3 separate regions of the Homo sapiens genome follow, and regions 1 and 2 are each linked to region 3. Evidence: fine-mapped expression QTL. A gene starts in region 3. Each other region holds a variant in brackets. All regions are shown on one strand. Distances are from middle to middle. Region 1 overlaps GPSM1 (G protein signaling modulator 1). Region 2 overlaps SNAPC4 (small nuclear RNA activating complex polypeptide 4). Region 3 holds the start of GPSM1 (G protein signaling modulator 1).

Region 1 (6,924 bases), 24 kb after region 3:
CTGCCAGGGCCGTGTTGGGACTGAGGCTTGAAGGTGGGCCTGGCTGTGGGGCTTCCCAGGGGCCCGGGACAGGCACTGGTGGCTCCGCTGAGTCTGCAGCTGGCCAGTGTTGGGTCAGGCAGCTGTGCCCCACCACCCCACTGCGGCTAGAGGGGATGGGGGTCCCTTGGGTGGAGACACGGCCAGTAGGGTGAGCCCCGGGCCAGGAGGGATGGACAGGAGCCCGGGGAAGGTCCCACGGCAGAGCTGGTCTGGGGGATTCATCTGAGGCCTTTGCGTCCCCGACCCTGGCCTGGGCTGCCCGCAGTGAGCTGGGAGTGGACCCACAGGCCCGCCCCACCTGCCTCCGGGGCACAGCATGATGCACCCTCAGGAGGGGGGATTGGGTGGCCTCACAGAGGTGACCAGGGGCCACAGGAAGGGTGATCCAGGCAGAGGGAACAGCAGGACTGACGGGGGAGGCCCTGTGTGCGGCAGGGGAGAGGCCTGTCCAGAGCCGGGCCCTTCCAGCACAGGGAGCCAAAGCCAGACCCCACCTGGCCCCAGCCAGGACGCGCTCTGTCTCGACACCTGTCCCCTTTGACTCTGACAGTACAGTCGGGGAGACGCAGAGGACACTCAGACATGGCGCTCGCCTCCACAAGGGGGGCTGGCTGTCAGAAAGCCATGGCCGGGCTGGTCCTTGGCCCCCCAGAGACTCTGGCCTGGCCCACCCAATGCGAGGTGCCAGGGTGGTGCTGGGCTGACCGGGTCCCTCTGTCTTCAGGGGCCAGACCCAAGAGGACGCAGAGGCTGAGCGCGGAGACCTGGGACCTGCTGAGACTCCCCCTGGAGCGGGTGAGCCAGGGACACGGGACCGATGTCAGCACAGCCGCTGCCAGAGCATGGGCAGCGGGGTTAATGAGGCAGAGCCACCGCCACCCACCTCAGCCCCTGTCTGCTGGGAGATAAATGTGCCCTCCTCGGCCTGATGCCCTGCATGGCCCATCTGCCACCTGCTCACCCATGTCCCTCAGCGTCTGGCCAGCTGTGCCCCAGGCGAGGCATGGTCCTCACACATTTCAGGCCCCCATACTCCACCCAGCTGCTATGCCACCACACCCTCGGGAGCCCACAGACAGGGGCACCCACTCCTGCCTGCTCCCTGCCCTCTCGGACTCTGACCCAAAGTGGGCACAGCTGCTGCAGGTGCAGACACTGGCTGGGGTTCAGCAGACCCACACAGACAGATTCGGGGGCTGCCTGGCGTAGGGCCCTGGGCTGGCCCTGTGCCTGTCGGCAGTGGGTGCTGTGTGGCCTGGGCCAGCAGCCTGATCTCTCTGAGCCTCTGGTTCCTCTGGTGTGGCCTGTGTTCAGTTGTGGATGGCCGTCAGGGTTCTGCTGTGGGGACGAGACCCAAGGACGCCCACAGTCACTGTCATTGCTGGTATAAGCCGGCTGACATTTGCGGGGGCCACTGGCCCTCAAACACCCCACCCTGCCTCTCCCGGCCCCAGCCAAGGGCCCACAGCCCCAGTCCTCTCCTCCTCTCTGGGTACTGGGCACCTACGGCGTGCATCCATGAAATGGAGGCGGCCTGGCCTTCCCTTCAGGGTCCTGGGATGGGGACATTGGTTCACAATTGCCCAGGCCACGCACAGCCTTACCCCTCCCCAGGAGCAGAATGGAGACAGCCACCATTCAGGGGACTGGCGGGGGCCCAGCAGGGACTCGCTACCCCTCCCCGTGAGGAGCAGGAAGTACCAGGAAGGCCCGGACGCTGAGAGGAGGCCCCGGGAGGGCAGCCACTCCCCGCTGGACAGCGCCGACGTCCGGGTGCACGTGCCACGCACGGTAGGCGTCTTTGACGGCAGATCCAGGCCGAGAGGGAGGAGAGCTTGGCAACTGCGCCCCAACTCCACTGCCAGCCAACGGGGCCAGGTCAGGCCCGGGCACTCCGGGGAGGCAGGGGTCCCTCCCCGGTGCACCTGGTGCAGTGCTGTCCTGGGACCCCGGTGGGGGCTCTGGGCAGGGCTCAGTGTTTAGCATTGTGGTCGCACCTGGCCTCAGAGGCCCCGGCCACCGAGGAGCCTCCTGGGGACTCTAGGCTGGGCTCTTCTGCATGGAACGCCCCGCCTCTCTTTGGGCCTCAGTTTCCATCTTGTTCACCAGTTGGGGGCTGGCTCTTCCCAGCCTTCAGGTGGCCTCTCTCTCTGACTCCAGCCCCCACCCTCCTTTGTTGGGACCCTCCAGACCCATCCGCTAGTCACAGGAGCGTGTCCCTGAAAGGAACTGGCTGCCTTCACTGTGAGAGCCGGGCTGCACAGATCCCCTGATGGGGTGCCCCTTCCTGAGGTGGCTCTTGGAGGCTCTGGCCAGTGAGGTCAAGCCTGTGTATCCTACCAGGGCCCTGGAGGGGTGGACGAGGCCAACACAGTCCCTGGGGGAATCCTGGGATCTCTGACACCTGGCGGGGGTCCCTGAGCAGAGGGGCCTGAGGGGCACCCAAGGGGTGGGTGGGAAGCCCCTAAGCCACACCCATGGTCAGGCCCTGGTGTGGAAGCACCTGCAGCTCCAGCTGGGCCAAGGTACTGGGGCCTCTCCTTGTGGGTGCAGGGGCCGGGGCAGGACCGATGGTGAGTGGGGTCATGGAGGGGATGCAGCTGGGTGGCCTGTGCATGGCTGCAGAGCCCCTGGTGAGGGGACAGCAAGGGGCTAGGTCCACTCAGGGTTCCTCCTGGTCAGGGGCTGGGAGGCCCCACCCTGCCCTACCCCACCTGGGCTCAAGGTCACGAGTGGAGCAGAGGGTCACAGCCCAGCAAGCAGCAGCAGCGCAGCCTGGGCGCCACCCGGGTCCTCAGGGCTAGCCAGGAGCCCCCCGCGTTGCTGTGGCACACAGAGGTGGCGGGAGGGGTGGGGCAGTTGCAGTGACTGCCAAGTGTATGGGTGGACGGACGGGGGACAGACAGACTGGTGGTCAGACTCGGGGTTGGTGGGGGGACAGGTGACAGGCCGGGCCTGTGCCTGGCAGGTGTCAGCTGTGCCAGGGCCACCCCAGCCACGGGAGAGCTGGTTGGTGTTCAGGGGCACCGATGGGCCGAGTCCGGGTTCGGAGGTCAGCCTGGAGCTCCCCCGAGCAGGACGGCTGGGTCCAAACCACTAGAAATAGTCTGAAATTGTTCTTCCGTGGGCACCAACCTGCAGAGGGGTGTGGGTGCTGGGCTGGGATTCGCAGCCCCCCGAGGCTGCCCAAGCCCATCCTTCCCACCAGCAGGGCACAGCCTACC[T/C]TCCCCTCATTCAGCCCCAGCACTGCCCAACCATCTGGGCTAGGTCCATCCGTCCACTGATGGGAGAGGTGTGGAGGGAAGGGCACCCAGGGAGCACCTGGTCAGGCCTTCCCGGGGGTCCCGGTGATCCCCCAGCCTCCCTGGGCCTGGAGGGAGGAGCAGGACTGGGACCCAGACACCTGCCCTGTCCACAGCTGGCCCTGCCCTGTCCACAGCTGGGTCTGCCCTGTCCACAGCTGGCTCTGCCCATCACATCTGGGCCGCCAAGGAAGGAGTGGGAGGCTGGCAGCATGTGTGGGACAGACCAGTCAGCCGGCCTCAGGGGCTGATGGCTTTCTAGAAAGCACAGCCTCTGAGGGCTTCCAGGCTTCACGTCACCCCAACAAACTGCCCTGGGTCTGGGCCAGCAGGGCAAGGGGACACAGTTCCAAGTGTCCAGCTGCCTGGCCCAGCACTCTGGAGGCCTTGGCCAGGGCCCCAGGGAGCCCCCACCTGCTGCGGGCCCTGCTCCCCTGGCCCCTGCAACCACCGCGGGGCAGGACGCCTGGGACAGCCAAGATCCTGGCCCCAGACAAACGGGGTTCCCAGGGTCTGTGAGGACGTGGCAGGGCCTCTTGGCTTTCTGCTGACCTGAACCCCACTGGCCTTACCGAGGTCAGAACCTTGGGTACCTCCGAGTAAGGACCGTCTGCACCCTGGTGGCAGCCTGTATGGGGACTGCAGCGAGGGTGGGTGGGGGATACATCCCTGGGGCGTCAGTGGCCGGGTGGGCCCCCTTCCCCCTCTGCTGGGGTCCTCAGGGAAGGGCTTTCAGCTCTCAGTTGGGGTCCTCATCTGCAAAGTGCAGCTGATACCAATACTGCGCCGTTGCTGTTGGTGACACCAATACTGCGCCGTTGCTGTTGGTGACACCAATGCTGCGCCGTTGCTGTTGGTGACACCAATGCTGCGCCGTTGCTGTTGGTGACACCAATGCTGCGCCGTTGCTGTTGGTGACACCGATGCTGCGCCGTTGCTGTTGGTGACACCGATGCTGCGCCGTTGCTGTTGGTGACACCGATGCTGCGCCGTTGCTGTTGGTGACACCGATGCTGCGCCGTTGCTGTTGGTGACACCGATGCTGCGCCGTTGCTGTTGGTGACCAACCAGCCCCTGCCCCTCCCCACCCTGTGCCCAGACAGTGCAGGGGCCTTGCAGCCAGCACATTCGGGGCTTTGGGATCTGAGGCGGTGTGGCTGGGTGTGGTCTGGGGGTCCAGAGAACTCATTCTGGGGTGGAGGGTAGGGGACAGGGCAGGGTTGGCCTCAGAGGCTGGAGACAGTGTAGGTCCAACCAGGAATGAGACAGAGAGGCAGCAACCAGAGGCTTGAGTTGAGCTGGCCGGGAGGCCCTTGAGCCAGGGCACTGGGGAGCCACCGAGGGCTGTGGGACAGGAAGGGCCGTCCCGGACAGAGGAGTCCAGATGAGGACAGCAACCCGCCCAGGTCCTCTGCGCCTGCCTCCGTAGTCAGGCTGAATAAAGAGGTGGCTTTCCCCACCTGGCCCAGCTCTGGAGGGAGGCCCAGGGGCCCAGGTGTCAGCGGGAAAAGGGCTCTTCGGCAGGCTGTCTGCCCACACAGCCCTCCAGTGTGCCCGCCCACAGGCACGGGGAGGGGGAGGTTCACTGCTGCACTTGCTGGGGGAGTGTTTACGGAGTGCGCCTGTGTGTGAGTGCGAGCCCACGTGCGTGTGTGTGAGCCTGTGTGTGTGCACGCACTCAAGTGAGCAGGGGCGGGCGCTAGGAGGGCCGAGCCCTTGCCCAGGGTCCTATTTAAGCCTCAGGCATCCCAGCATTGAGGCAGCACTTGGCACTTTGGGCAGGGCGGTGGTGGCCCTGGGCACCTTGTGTCCTGCCTGCGCTCTGTGTGGCCAAGCACCCAGCGTGGCTCCCTGCTGCTGTGGAGACAGCCTGTGATCCGCGTGAGTCTGGGGTCCCTGGGGTCCTAACAGGTGGAGGCTGAGGGAGCACACGGGCCTCTGTGAAGCCGGGTGGGGTGGTCTTGGGCCGGGTGCATTCCCCTCCTCCGCAGGAGAAACTGGGCTTGTGCCAAAGCAAGAGAGACTAGAGTCAGACTGCAGGAGGGACTCTGAGGCCTCCGGGAAGGAGGGAGCCAGGGCTTGGGGCAAGGGAGAGGTTAGAGCAGGGAGGCGGAACCCCGAGTCCCACTGGATATGTTCTACTGGGACATAAATGCAGGGGAAGGTGGCCTTGGGGCCCAGGGTCCTGCTTCTGAGGGGCTCCAGGAGCCCCAAACTATCCAGAGCCTTTCCCCGTACCAGGCACTGAGCCACGGTTTTGCACCTGCAGTCGTGGGCCCCTGCCCCCATGTGAGGGAGGCATCAGCCCCTCAACAGCTGGCCCCAGCCTCAGGGAAGGGGAGGGCTGCCCGACATAGGACCCTGAGAGGGGCTCTGCCATGGGGCCTGGGACATGGCCCCTGACGGGTCCTGCCTTTCCCAGGAGGGACCTTGCTCAGTCCACCTGGGCCCCGGGTCACCTGGGGGAGTCCAGATTGGGCCAGAGGCAGAGGCCCCCCGCGGCTGTGCCCTAGGTCATCATAGCCCAGGAGCCAGTTCCTTTTAGACCAGGAGGCCACATCCTCCTGGGGAGGTACCTGTGTGGCCCCAACTGGCACTCAGGCTGGCAACCCCAGTGCCACCCTCTGCCTGGACCTGCAGCTCCCAGAGCCCTGGCCCAAGTGGATGTGGCCCTCCCCACAGACTGGGCCAATTCTCCCCTCCCTCCTGGCTGGGGAATCCGGGGGAGTGGGGGTGTTGCCTTAGGCCTGAGCCAGGCTGCAGGAGGAGAGCCCTGCGGGGAGAAGGGGGTGCTAGAACTCTCCCTCCTCAGGTCTGCCTCAGGGACAGGAGGTACCTCAGGCTTCCGTGACAGCTGGGGACTGACTCCAGGGGCCAGAGCCAGGTGGGGTCTCTCCTAAAACAGGGCTGTCCACAGGGCCCTCGGCTCAGCTCAAGGGTCTGAATCCCAGCTCTTTTTTGCTCCAGCATGACCTTGGGTAGGTCACACATGTCTCTAGGCCCCACTCTCCTGTGCCCTGGGCCGAGTCCAGCAGAAAACTGGAAGCAGGACGGGAGCCCTAGTCCTGGGCTGTGGGGGTCAGGTGTCGGGAATTCCAGTTGTCTGTCAGACAGCTGTCCGTCTCCTGGGCTGTGGGGGTCAGGTATTGGGAATTCCAGGCAGCATCGGGGACCCGGGAGGTGCCATCTCCACCAACATTGCGTCTCTTGTTAACTCGTTCAGCTGTGAGCCCAGCATTTGCAGACCTGGAAGAGGCCACCAGCCGTGAGATGGACAGGCTGGGGCCGGGCAGGGGCTGCCAGCGCCGGTCGGGAGGTGGACGGGGCTTGGAACCATCACAAACACCCTTCAGCCCTGGGGCCCGGACCAGGCCCTGTGAGGCTGGGTCACGGGGTGGACCTGCTTCAGCTGGGCCCCTTGGGGGGCCACAGGAGACCACGCCCTCCAGCCTCCCTTGTTTGGGTGTGTGGACTGAGGCCCAGGGCGGGGTTCATTCCTTCGAGTTCATTCACACAGCAGACACCGGTGAGGGCTGTGTAGGGCATGGACACAGGGAGCTCATGGCAGGGCTGACACAGG
Region 2 (5,000 bases), 54 kb after region 3:
GTCTTCGGCTCCCTTTGTGGCTGGCACTCTTTGAGGCTTCTTGAGCCGGCACGTTTGGGAAGAGGTGGCCTGTGGGGAGGAAAGACCCACACTTGATAAGCCCCAGGCATCTGGCCCAGGGACAGCCCCTCGCTGCCATCCCCTCATCAGGAGGGACCATGTGGGGAGCCTGGGGTCTTGAGCCAAGAGAGGGTCAAGCGGCACATCCTGGGTCTCCCAAGTCACAGTGGCTACCCCAGATGGCAATGCTCCGGCCAAAGCCAGGGCAGTGGGCACTCTGGGAAACCCAGCCCATTTAATGCTGGCTGAGATCAGCCGGCAGCCCAGCTTGCCGGTGTTGGGCATGGGCGGACGCTCGCTCCAGACGACCCCTGCCTCTGGGCCCCATGCTGGGGAAGCCTTAGGGCTGCAAGGGGAGCCCAGGGAGCTCCAAGCTGGCCCAGCCGGACTCTCATCCCTGTGGTGGGACTCGAGGGAGCTCTGTCACCAGGGGCCACAGGCTGTGCTGCTTGGGGGCTGTGGGTGAAAGCCAGGGCCAGGTTAGGCCTCTTCCCCGCCAGGGCCAGGTTAGGTCTCTTCCCCACCAGGGCAGAGAAGCAGAGTTACCTGGGGTGCTCTGGGCACTTGAGGATGCCTGGAAATGAAAGAGAGGAGAGTCAGCAGCTCAGGTGTCCTCTGCTGGCTTGGACCACCTCTCCTAGCATCTGGACTATCCCCTGCCACTCCCTGAAATGGGACGAGGCCCCAAGGGCTGGTGCTGGCCTCCCACACGCCTCTGTAGGAACTCCGGGGCCACAGAAGGAGCCAAGCATGTGGCCCGATCCCATGTCCAGTGGCTACGGCACAGAGCCACCCAGAGTGGGCAGCGGTGCTGGAGACACGCTCTGCACCGGAGGCTCCTGAACCGCAGGCTGCTGCTGGCTGTGACCCCTTGGGTAGGGGACGTTGTCGTGCCCTGCACAGCAGGCAAAGGCCTGGCCTTGTTCCCCCTGCCAGTGCAGCTCCTCCTAAGGGTGCCCTCAAGAGCTCTTCTGGGGGGTTGGGGGCAGGGTGGGGTCTGCAGGGAGAGGCGGGGGGGCTGGAAGCACAGAGGCCCAGGGGTACCCCACTGCTGTTCCTGCTCCTCCAATGAGTGACACTGCTTTGTCACCCCACCCCCAGGTGACGGGGCTCAAGGGTGAGGAGGCCTCGCTGAACTTCTGTGAGTTTGGTTTCTGGAGCAGAAAGGCAAGAACCAGGCATCCCCGGCAGACAGCGCCCATGTCCATGACCGCCCAGCGGGGCTATGGGGGAAAACAGGCACGTGGGCCCCAGTGTCAGCCCCGACCTGCACCTGCCTGACTTCCCCAGGGCCTCTCAAGGCTGCGTCCCCTCAGGTGGGAAGTGCAGATGCCTCCCTGAGGGGCTGCGGTGGAGCGGGTGGGGCGGGCAGCCAGCCTCCGTGGAAACCCACTCCAACGCCGGGGCGGGCAGTGGCCATCCTCACTTCTCACCCCAAGTGCCTGCTACCTGCAGAAGATGAACTGGTGGGTCCCGAGCACCAGCCTGGGGCAGCCTGGGTGGCAGGGCCTTCCTCTCTCGGACGACCTCCAAGCAGCCGGCAGTATCGATGTGGAACAGCTGCGGGACACAGGAGGCAACCTAACCATAGCTGCTTTCGGGAGCAGCTCCGAAGCTCCAGAGGCCTAGGCAGAACCTGGGGCAGCCCTGAGGCTGGGGCGGCTACCTTGAGACCTCAGCCTTCCTGCCCTTCTGATGCAGATGCAGGGGAGGCCATGAGGCTGTGGACATCCAGGATGGCCTCCCATGAGACCCAGGCCTGCTCTCCTCCCCCGGCATCTTCCACTCATACTGGGGCCCCGGGGACCCCCTTCCCCGGACACTGTTTAGCCCGATGGGGGCAGTGCACACTGTAGCCGGCACCCCTTCCACATTCACTTGCTAACAGTGTAAGGCATGAAAAGTGCATTTTCAAGGCTAGAAAACTTTAGATAGCTAGACTTTAAGGAATGAATCTACTGCAGATTTCAAAACTTCACCAAAAACTTTTTACAAGGCAAAGGAAAACGAAGCTCTGCCCAAGTAGCTTACCTGGGTAAACAGGGTAAACACAGGGGTGCTGGCCAGGCGGGCCTGCTGCAGCTGCTCCCTGAGGCCATCCGCTGCGGGCACAGGGGGATAAGTGGAAAGCAGCCCCAGCTCCCATGGGCACAGGGGGATGGGTGGAAAGCAGCCCCAGCTCCCACGTGCCTTTCGAGGCGGCTCTGGGAGCCAGGCCAGGGTGGGAGGGGAGGCCTTGGAACCAGCACCCCACAGCCACGCCTGGACAAGGGTGGGCCCTGTGAGCCCTGTCACCACCAAGCTGCCACATGCTTGGCCCAGGAAGAGTGGTGGGGTAGGGAGGGAGGGCTGGCTGTGACTGGGTGTCCTGGAAACCTTCAGGGACGGGAAGCTGACCAGAGGTGGCGCCCACCCCAAAAAGACTCCCCTGCTGAGGCCACTTCCCCAAGTAGCCACCGTCTGCTAGGCTGGATGTACTCTTCATCCTCACCCCTCGCCCCCAGGATGCTCCCAGAGGAGCCCCAGGCCATACCTTGAGTCTGCACTACGGCGGGTCTCTGGGAAGCCTGTGTGCAGGGCACGACAACGTCCCCTACCCAAGGGGTCACAGCCAGCAGCAGCCTGCGGTTCAGGAGCCTCCGGTGCAGAGCGTGTCTCCAGCGC[C/T]GCTGCCCACTCTGGGTGGCTCTGTGCCGTAGCCACTGCACATGGGATCGGGCCACGCTGTCACCAGAGCTGACCCCTGGGGATGAGGTGGGCAGGGGTGGCTGCCTCAGCTGCTCTTTCTGTAAGGAGAAGGCAGCACCTGGGGCCCATGGCCAGGCTCGGCCCCCGGAGTGGACCCTGCCCAGTGGCCAGTGCTGCCCTCCACCCCCATCAGGGCATGATCGACGGGGAGAGGAATCACTCAGACCAGGGCGGGGCACGTGGTGGCGTGCGCGTGGGTGTCTGCAGCAGGCCTCACCTGTGTGCAGCTCCGAGCAGCCGTGTTGGCCCTGAGCACCCTCAGCACGGTCTCCACAGGCACTGTCAGCAGACGCCTCCCACCCTGATGAGAAAGCTGCCTGAGGCGAGGCACGCGGGGTGTACGGGACACATGGGGGCCCTCCCCTCGCTGCCCACACACGACTGCCTCTTCACCCAGGCTCCAAAGCGTGGCTGTGTACAGCTCTGCTCTGCCTCATGGGAACGTCCACCATGGGAAGCGTGGGTTCCCCAGGCAGGGCCTCCCAGCTAGGCCTGGCTCCTGGGACATTAACAGGGTCCCATGCCCCCCAGCCAGTTCCTCAGGCTGACAGCAGCAGCCCTTCCAGGTGACGCCCCGGCCTAGGGAGATGCTGGCTGTGCAGCAGCGAGCCCCATGCACCTAGCTCTGCCAGTAGCTTCAGTGTCCACTGTCCCTGCCAATGACTCCCAGGACAGACCAGCCTGTTCAACTCTGACTGCTCCCACAGACATGGCCAGAGATGGGCCTGACACGGTGAAGACCAGCCAAGACGAGCAGACACACCACAAGCCAGGCTTGTCCCAAGCAGGTGGACAGGCCCTTCCCAGGGAGGGCCTCCAGGTGCACAGGCTCACGAGGAGGGAGGAGGGGCTCCTCCCACTGCTGCCTCTGCCCTCCCCAACCCTGGCTTGGGGGTGAAATGTTTCAGAAATGCCTCCAGGTCCAAGTGCCCATTCAGCCATACCCCTGAAACAGTCAACAAGCCAGGAAAAATGGAGGCTTCCCCAACAGTCCCCCCGACGCACAGCTGTCCAGAGCTCAGCCAGAAGTAGCACGTTCTGATGCACACGAACCCTGGGGCCCCTGCTGCTGCACTATCCCCAAGCGTCAGCCCTGGCGAGCGAGTGCCGAAAGTGCACTTCCCGTGGTACACCCAGGGCCGGGGCCTACCTCCAGGGCCTGCTTCTCTGCGCCCGCCGGGCGAGTGTCTGCTGAGTGGGAGGCCTGGGCAGACCTCGGGACAGGGCCGTGGGCCCTGGCAGGGACCTGCACCGGACTCGTCTCCTCTCCAGGAGCCGCGGCTGTGGTGGAAGCTTCCTTGCTGCCGCCCTGGCTGGCACTGGACCCCTTGGGAGGGCTGAGGGAGGCAGCGGGGCCTCCCAGCCAGGCCCCTGCCCCTCCTCTCCATGGCTGGCTGGTGCTCTGCCTGGCAGGAACCCACAGGTCCATGTCCGGGACCATGTACTGTGGGGACAGCAGCGCTCTGTCACCCTCCCCGGCCTGCGCCTGCTCTGGCTCGTCCTCCTCGCTGCTGCTGCTGCTGCTGCTGCTGCTCCCTCCACTGCTGCCACTGCTGCTGCCGCTGCTGCTGGTAGAGCTCCACCGGACGCTGTGACGGGCCCTCCGCCGCCGCCTCCGGAGACCCTGCTTCTTCTGAGGGGAGGAAAGAGCTACTTAGAGGCCTTGGCAAGCCCGGTTCACCCATGATGGCAGCAAGCAGGCCAGCCCTTTGGGGAGAGGCCCAAGCGGGGGCGCCTCCGGGGTCAAGAGCAGCCGCTGCCGAGGCAGGGTCTCCCTTTGCCCTTGGCCACCCAGAAGAAGAAATGCCAAGACCAGAAACCGAACGCCCCCCTCCCCTCCCCTCCTCCTGCCTGCTGGACCCCCCAGTTGACCAGGCCATTGTCTGGTTTCAGATAAAGAAGGAGCGAGTGGCTCACCCCCATCATGATCTTCCACTTGCTCAGACACTGGGAGCCAGACCGATGGGGCAGCTCAGAAGCTATTTTTGCCCAGTGACCTGCAAAAGCCAAACCCCATGGAAATGCCTTCATCCAAAGATTCTTCCCCAGGACAGGCTTGCTGTTCCCCAGGAGACTCGCCGTGGCCCCATCAGAGTGGAGCCTCCTGTGCACTCTCACGCTGGGGGGTCAAGCATGTTGGGTGCCTACAATTTGGCAGCATCTGATTCTCATTGGATGCTCAGCCCCTTAGGAAA
Region 3 (6,924 bases):
GTGTGTGTGTGTGTGTGTGTGTGTGTGTGTGTGTGTGTTTGGGTGTCCTTCACTGTCTCCCTCCCCACTCCCGGCCTGCTTCTTCCTTCCCCAGCTTGGAATCCACGGTTGAGGCTGGTCAGGAACCATCAGGACCCAGCATGGGTAATGGCAGCTGCTGGTGCCCTAGCCCCCACTGGGTCCTACAGTAGCTGCTTGTTGGGGAAGGGGCCTGAAAAGGTGGGAGCAGAAGGAAGCCAGGGTCTTGGGGCCGTGGGCTGCCACAGCCACCACAGAAACACTCCAACTTCTCCCAGCCCTAGCAAACCAGTGGAGGTGTGTGCTGGTGCTTTGTTCCTGGGGTGGCTTGGGGCCGCCTGGCTGCCTCTCCCGAGCCTGGCCCTCACCCAGGAGGCCACACCAGCCTCGAGTGCCCACCTCCGTCCAGAGCCCCAGCTCCCCACTCCTGGGGGCTGAGCCAAGAACCCTGTGGCTGTCCCACCGTCGCCTCCCAGAGGCTTGTCCGGCGCAACAGGACAAGGAAGGACTAAGGCTTAGAGTCGGCCCGATCAGGTGACGCCTGAGCTGTCACCGCTGTCACCACTTACACACAGGGTGTGTGGACAAAGTGGTGCGTGCCAGGGAGGGCTAAGTGACCGAGGGCAGGCACGTGGCAGGCTCCTGAAGGTGGAGGTGGCGCTGACAATGGCCACCAGTGAGCAGGGCCCTGTGTGTGCTGGGGCTGACTCCAACCCCTTGGCGCTGCCACGCAGGGGCTTGGGAGGGCCCCTCCCCAGGCACATGGGAGGTGGCCCCTCCCTGACCACGGAGCCATCGTGTCTGCAGAGGCCCACCCTGCGCCCTGTGCTGCTGCCTGGGGCCAGAAGAATAAGTCGATGTGAAATGGCTTTTTCTTTCCTCACCCCCCTTTGGGAGTCAGGCCCGTTAGGAATGGAAGGGGCTGTGCTCCTGGTCCCCTGGGGGAGTGAGCTTCCCGGACTCTTGGGGGGATCTGGTAAGGTGGATGGTGGGAGGCTCGAGGGTGTCCAGAGCCTGATGGGAGGGGGTGGCAGTGGAGGGTCATCCCTCCAGGGTCTCCCTTCTGGATGTGGACACCACATGTCAGGCCTGTCACCTGGCCTTGTCACACTCCATCTCTGGGTCCCCTTCATAGGTTTTCTCGACAGGAGAATCAGGTCCCTGGATAGGAGGAGACGCCCCTCTGTGCAGTGTGGTGGGGATGTACCCCCAATCCAGCCAGGACCCACTGCAGGGGCCCAGCAGGGGCAGGCACGAGTGTGAGAGCAACATGACCCCAGCAGCTCTCGCTGTGTGCCAGGCACATGGACACGCACCACACAAACCCCACCGTGTGCCAGGCACACGGACAAGCACCGCACAAACCCCACTGTGAGCCACTAGGCACATGGACAAGCACTGCACAAACCCCACTGTGTGCCAGGCACATGGACAAGCACCGCAGAAACCCCACGCCTCAGTGACCCTCCACACCTTGCGGGACGGGCAGCCCTCAGGTGACAGAACCGAGGCTCAGAGAGGGAAAGCAACTTGTGCCAGGTCACACAGCCTCATAGCCCAGCTCGGCCTAACAAAGCCAGAGCCCTCGGGGGTGCAGGTTTCCCCACAAGTTCTGATATAATGTTGGGGCTCTCCCGGCCCAGGGACACAAGCTCCCAGCTCTCTGCATCAAGGAAGGAGACCAGGAGAAGCTCCCCCAGCAATGACAGCTACGAGGCTGCAAATCTCTCCCTCCCTCCACCATTTGTGCAATGTCTTTTGTCCCCACTTCTCTTCACCAGCCTCCCACCACTAACCCAGGGGACCCACAAGGGGCTCACAGTGTTGGTGTGGACCCTCTGTGGGCCTCCTGATGGCAGCAGCGCCTGGGGAAAGAGGGCTGAGCTGAGGCCTGGCACAGGCAGGGCCCCCAGCAGCCCCTGCCCTTACAATGGGATGCTGGCTCAGGTGCCCGAAGCCCAAAGGAGGTGGCCCGGAAGGTTGGAGCTTCAATCGAAGGCCTGTTCTCTGCCCGCAGCCAGGCCCAGGGCTGTGGCAAAGGAGGGTGGTGCCCCAGCCAACACCACTGTCCCTGCCGGCCAGCAGCCACGGCCCCGGCTGGAAGGGAGCAAGGCTCTGCCTGGCTTCTGTGGTCTTTGGGGGAGGGCACGTGGGCCCAGCAGGCAGCTTGCGCTGCGCTCAGGGCACAGATGGTTCTCATTCCCGTTGCCTCCCTTACACAGGAAAAACAAACCAGCCCGGGGCCAACAGACCCCTTTTTAACCTCGTGTTTATTTTCCTTCCCATGCTTGAAAACGCTGACTGTCCTGTGGGCGGCAGCTGCTGAGGGTCTTGCCAGGACGGCACTTTCCTGACCTCAGGGCAGCTCTCCCAGGGAGGGGCTGGGGTGCACGGAGGGGCCCCGAAGGAATGCAGCCCATTTCCTGCTCCTGGACTTCTCCGAGTCATACCCGGGGTCGCAGCTGCCTTTCAAGGGCCTGGAGTCTCCTGACACCACCGGAAGGCCCAGGATGCTGTCGGGGGCAGGACAGAACCCGGGGAGGCCGGCTGTGGGCCTCGCTGGCTGCGGAGAACCCCCCAAGCCATCGGGAGCTGAGGGTGGGTGGAGGGGAAGCCACGTCACACCACATAGGCCCACAGGGCTCCAAGAATTCAGAGGAGGAGGAGGAGGCGGTAGGGGCTGGGGTCCCGGGACCCCGGGTGGGCACAGCCTACTGTGCCACCTGCATCCTCCCTAAGCCTGCACAGTGCCCAGGAGGAAGGAAGGGGCAGGCTGCATCCCCATTCCGGGGGAGCTTGGGAGGGGAATGTGGCCACCCAGGGTCTCAGAGGTGGGGGGCTTACCAACCGTCCCACAGGCCAAGCAGAGCCTGTATTTGTCATCGGTGCCCCAGGTTTCTCTAAAGCAGGCAGACAGCATCCCCACGGCCTGCGCCCCATGGCCCAAGGCAGAAGTTTGGAGAAGGGGGCAAAGCCACGTTGGGGCTGCACAGAAGAGGAGGGTAGGACCCCCGAGGCGTAGGGCGCCCACCAAGAAAGGCAAGGAGGCCTCAGCAGCCCCTCCCCACGTGGGTGAGGCTGCGGGGCTCACCAGGCGGCCTGTGGATGAAAGGAGCCCAGAGGCCAGTGTGGCTGCACTGTGACCCAGGGACCCCCGCGGGCCCTCAGAAGTCCCCAGGGGACCAGCAGCAAGGCCAGGCCCAGGCCCTCTCCCCTGCATTCCCTGGGGTGGGGTGGGCTGGGGCCCACACCCCCTCCCCCCTCCCCCCTCCCCGGGGACTGCCCGCCTCACGGCGCCCCTCCCCCCGCGTCCGCCCCGCCCCCCGCAGAGGGAGGCACGCGGCGGTGGCCGCCCGGTCCGCGCCCCCTCCCCGCGCGGGCGGCGGTGACATCACGGCCACGGCGGCGGGAGGGGCGGCGGCGCCCCGCGCACATCACTTCCTCGGCGCCTCCCCGGGGGAGGACGGGCGAACGAGGCGCGGACGGACAGGCGGACAGCAGGGCGGACAGCAGGGAGGACAGCAGGGCGGGCAGGGGGCGGACGGCCACGGCGCGGGGGGCGCTCCCGGCTCCCGCTCCCGCGTCCCCGACCCATGGCGGGCCCGGCCCCGCCCGCGGCCGACGAGCTCCCGGGCCCGGCCGCCAGGCGCCTCTACTCCAGGTAGGACGGGCCGGGGCCGGGGCCGGGGCCGGGGCTGGGACCGGACCGGGCCGGGTCGGGACGCGGGGGAGGCTGCAGTTGGGAACAAAGGCAGCTCTCGCGGGCGCGCAGCGTGGCTGAGGACGCGCCCCTCCCTCCAGGCCGAGCCCAGCCCGGCGTGTGCCCGCGTGGGCGTCCCCTGAAGCCCTCTTTCCCCCAAGCCAAGGGGAAGGGGGTGGGGGGCCGGGGGGCTGGAGGCGGGGTGGGCAGCTTCTCCAGCCTCACTCCCCTGGCACCTGGCAGGGGCACCGTGGGGTGCTTCCCTCCCAAGCCTGGCCCTGCCATGCCCGGGGCACTCAGGGGCATCATGGCCAAAGAGACCTGGCTGCTCTGGATGGGGCTCTGCCCCTCACCAGCCCTCCACGAGCCCAGTGGGATCCAGCTGGGTTGGAAGGGAGCCAGCCAGGTGGGTGTGTACCTGCCTGAAAAGGCATCTACTCTCCGGGCACATTCCTGGGTGATCCCAGTGACTGGGCTCTGTGCCCCACGCCTTTGGGGATGACAGGGTGGCCCTGCCCCAGGTGGCATGCCTGCCTGGTGACTCCCAATGTCCCCCCAGGGGCTGCCCTGGGCCCAGCCGGGCAGGTGCCTGGAGCCCCAAGCAAGGCTGGGTGGTACCAGGCCTCAGGCAGAGCCACACGAGCGTGAGGTCCAGGCAGGGGCTTGCGAATGGGTGGCAGCCGTCAGAGGCAGGCCTGGCTCCCCAGAGCGAGGGACACTATTGTCCTCTGGACATCCCTAAAACCTGGTGACCTCCCTGATAGGGGTCCCAGCAGCTGATCCCGGGGGGCGCCTAGCCTGGCCCCCAAGGATTCTCTGGCCCCAGCCAAGCAGCAAGCCTCTGCCTGGGGCACCCGAAATGAGGTACTGGTGGCGGCACGGCGGACAGAGGCCTTGCTGCCTCCGGTCTGCTCTCTGCTTTGGTCCCAGACACAGCCCCATTGTGCCGTCCTGGATGGAGCGCTGAGCCCCTAGCCTGGCTCCTGGGCCCCACGCAGGGGAGGGGCGTGAGGGTGATTTTGCTGGCAGCTGCTGCCAGGGGCCTGCCCTAAAGGATTTTCAAGGGTTTCCTCCGCTGATCTGATCGGCTGTGCAGGGCCGCATGTGCTCCAGGGCGGCCGTGCTGTGAGGGGGATGGATAGCAGCCCTGGCTGGAGTGAGTTTGAGTGTGAGTGTGTGGAGCTGTGAGAGAGTGTGTGTGTGGAGCTGTGAGAGACGGGTGTCCAAGACCTTAGCCTTGGGTGAGGCCTGCACAGCTGACCATAGAGTTGGGCATTCTCCAGGCTACAGCTAGAAGCCTGGGGTCCCCTGGGGACACGCCAGGCAGGAGCCAGCCCCTGGCAGGGGCAGTGCTCAGGGGGACCACTCAGAGAGACCCCAGACCCAGCCTTGCATCCCCCTAAGCAGGGAGTCCAGTTGAGCTCCAGGGTGGAGTCAGGCCCAGACTTGGGGGAAGCGCGCCAAGCCCTCCAGCAGGGCCTGTGACGAGGTCCCCCCGGGAGTCTGCACCCCACCGTGTAGCCACAGCCCGGTTTGGGCAGGCGGTTCCTGGTCGGAGCTGGCTTCAGAGCATGGATGCCTAGACGTGTTCTGGGCCAGTGGAAGCTGCGGGCCAGACGGGAGGGCCCTTTGCTGTCATGCTGGGGCTGGAGAGCAAGACACGGAAAAGTCTCCTGTCTCCTGAAACCCGAGTGCTGGGGGCGGCCCACCTGCTGGCGTGGGCGGTGGGCATGTGGATGCCCTGGAGGTGGGCGGAATCCGTGTGGGCACTCCTCACGTGGCTGTACTGGGGTCCCTCAATGTGGATGGGGCTCCAGGTTGGCCCAAGGTCTCCTCTGCCCCGTCTACTGCCTTCCCACACTGACATTCCTTCCTGGAGAGAGGAGTTTCAGCTTTTAAAATGGGGAACTGTGCCTGGAAAACACACTGACAGCGAGGCCCATGAATGTGCCCATGAGCCCACTGGGTACCCTGAGGGGCCCTGGGTGCTGGGTCGGTGGGGACGGGCCCCTGGGTTCTGGGTCGGTGGGGACGGGGCCCTGGGTGCTGGGTCGGTGGGGACGGGCCCCTGGGTGCTGGGTCGGTGGGGACGGGGCCCTGGGTGCTGGGTCGGTGGGGACGGGCCCCTGGGTGCTGGGTCGGTGGGGACGGGCCCTTGGGTTCTGGGTCAGTGGGGATGGGCCCTGGGTGCTGGGTCGGTGGGGACAGGGCCCTGGGTGCTACAGTTAATGCTCAGAATTCTGGCCCACTTGCCAGGGGCTCCCTGGCCCAGAGCAGGGCTTTGGGGTGAAGAGGCCTGGCGGGGACAGGCCAGTGGCTGAGAAGGCCCCGGAAAGTGGGGAAACCCTGGGTGGTCGTCTCCTGGCCTCCCACCTGCTTTAAGGCCAGCTGAGTGCTCCCCGGGGCTGGGGCCGGGAAGGGGCAGCAGAGCCACCCACCTTGGGGTGACCCTGTTAGAGATGCCCTCCAAGCAGCAGTCACCAGCTCCCAGACAGGACGTCCTCAGGTGTGGACTGGGCCCCCCGCAACCTCTCTGGCCACATGGCCATGCTACCCCCTACCTTCACTCCATCCTTCCTCCCTCCCCTGTCCCCGTCCTGGGCACCATCCCTGGTGGGTCGCTGGGCAGCGACGGGCCCTAGGAATTCCTGGCAAGCCTGACCCCAGGTGCTTCCTACAGCTGGGTGACCTTCAGTCCCCTCTCCAGTGATTCCAGCTCCCGCTGTGCTCCCAGCCCGGTCCTGCGCCTCACTCTCTCCCCTCCCCTGGCCACTGAAGGGGAGTCGGTGTGGTTTTCCCTGGGGGTGTCTGGCTGGGGGATGGGGCAGATAGAGCCAGCTGTGAGCAGAGTCTCTTCAGCATCTGCTCAGGGGCCAGCATGTAGGTGACGGCCTTGGGGAGGGGCAGGTGCCAATTCTGTTAGCAGGGCTGGGACTGAGGGACACGGCTTTCGGGTGGCCGGAGGTAGTAGGAGTTGCAGTGCTGGCTTGGGAACTGGCCTTGGTGATGGCACCCCAGCCACCACGGAGGGTCTGAGGGTTCAGTCTGTTGACGAGGACTGGGCAAGGGAGAGGCATTCTAGGTCCTGCCCCGCCTTTGGCCAAGCTGTCCTGAAGGTGGACAAATGGTCTGGCCTGAGTAGGACCCCTGAGCCCACAAGGCCTCAAGGTAAGGAGGAGAGAGCCCAGGGCCTGAAGACCCCCACC

The links.
Region 1: its variant is fine-mapped to the expression of GPSM1 in aorta (GTEx, PIP above 0.99).
Region 2: its variant is fine-mapped to the expression of GPSM1 in whole blood (TOPMed, PIP above 0.99).

The regions. Positions count from the first base shown.
Region 1 is chr9:136,347,931-136,354,854 of GRCh38, forward strand. GPSM1 (G protein signaling modulator 1) reads left to right here. Exons shown (of 14, transcript NM_001145638.3): 10 at 767-837; 11 at 1,657-1,833. Among named protein-coding and RNA genes, the nearest start is that of DNLZ, 12 kb to the right of the region's middle. RefSeq lists an enhancer at 4,787-5,081. The variant T/C (reference allele first, on the strand shown) is at 3,267.
Region 2 is chr9:136,379,231-136,384,230 of GRCh38, forward strand. It overlaps SNAPC4 (small nuclear RNA activating complex polypeptide 4), which reads right to left. Exons shown (of 24, transcript NM_003086.4): 15 at 4,723-4,802; 16 at 3,956-4,438; 17 at 3,023-3,106; 18 at 2,594-2,843; 19 at 2,092-2,162; 20 at 1,510-1,620; 21 at 607-634; 22 at 1-69. Among named protein-coding and RNA genes, the nearest start is that of CARD9, 8.1 kb to the left of the region's middle. The variant C/T (reference allele first, on the strand shown) is at 2,725.
Region 3 is chr9:136,324,085-136,331,008 of GRCh38, forward strand. GPSM1 (G protein signaling modulator 1) reads left to right here and starts at 3,455. Exons shown (of 14, transcript NM_001145638.3): 1 at 3,455-3,679. The coding sequence starts at 3,612. It overlaps DKFZP434A062 (a long non-coding RNA gene), which reads right to left and starts at 3,239. Exons shown (of 1, transcript NR_026964.3): 1 at 1-3,239. RefSeq lists enhancers at 1-458, 459-1,087, 3,617-4,146, 4,147-4,675 and a silencer at 2,289-2,583.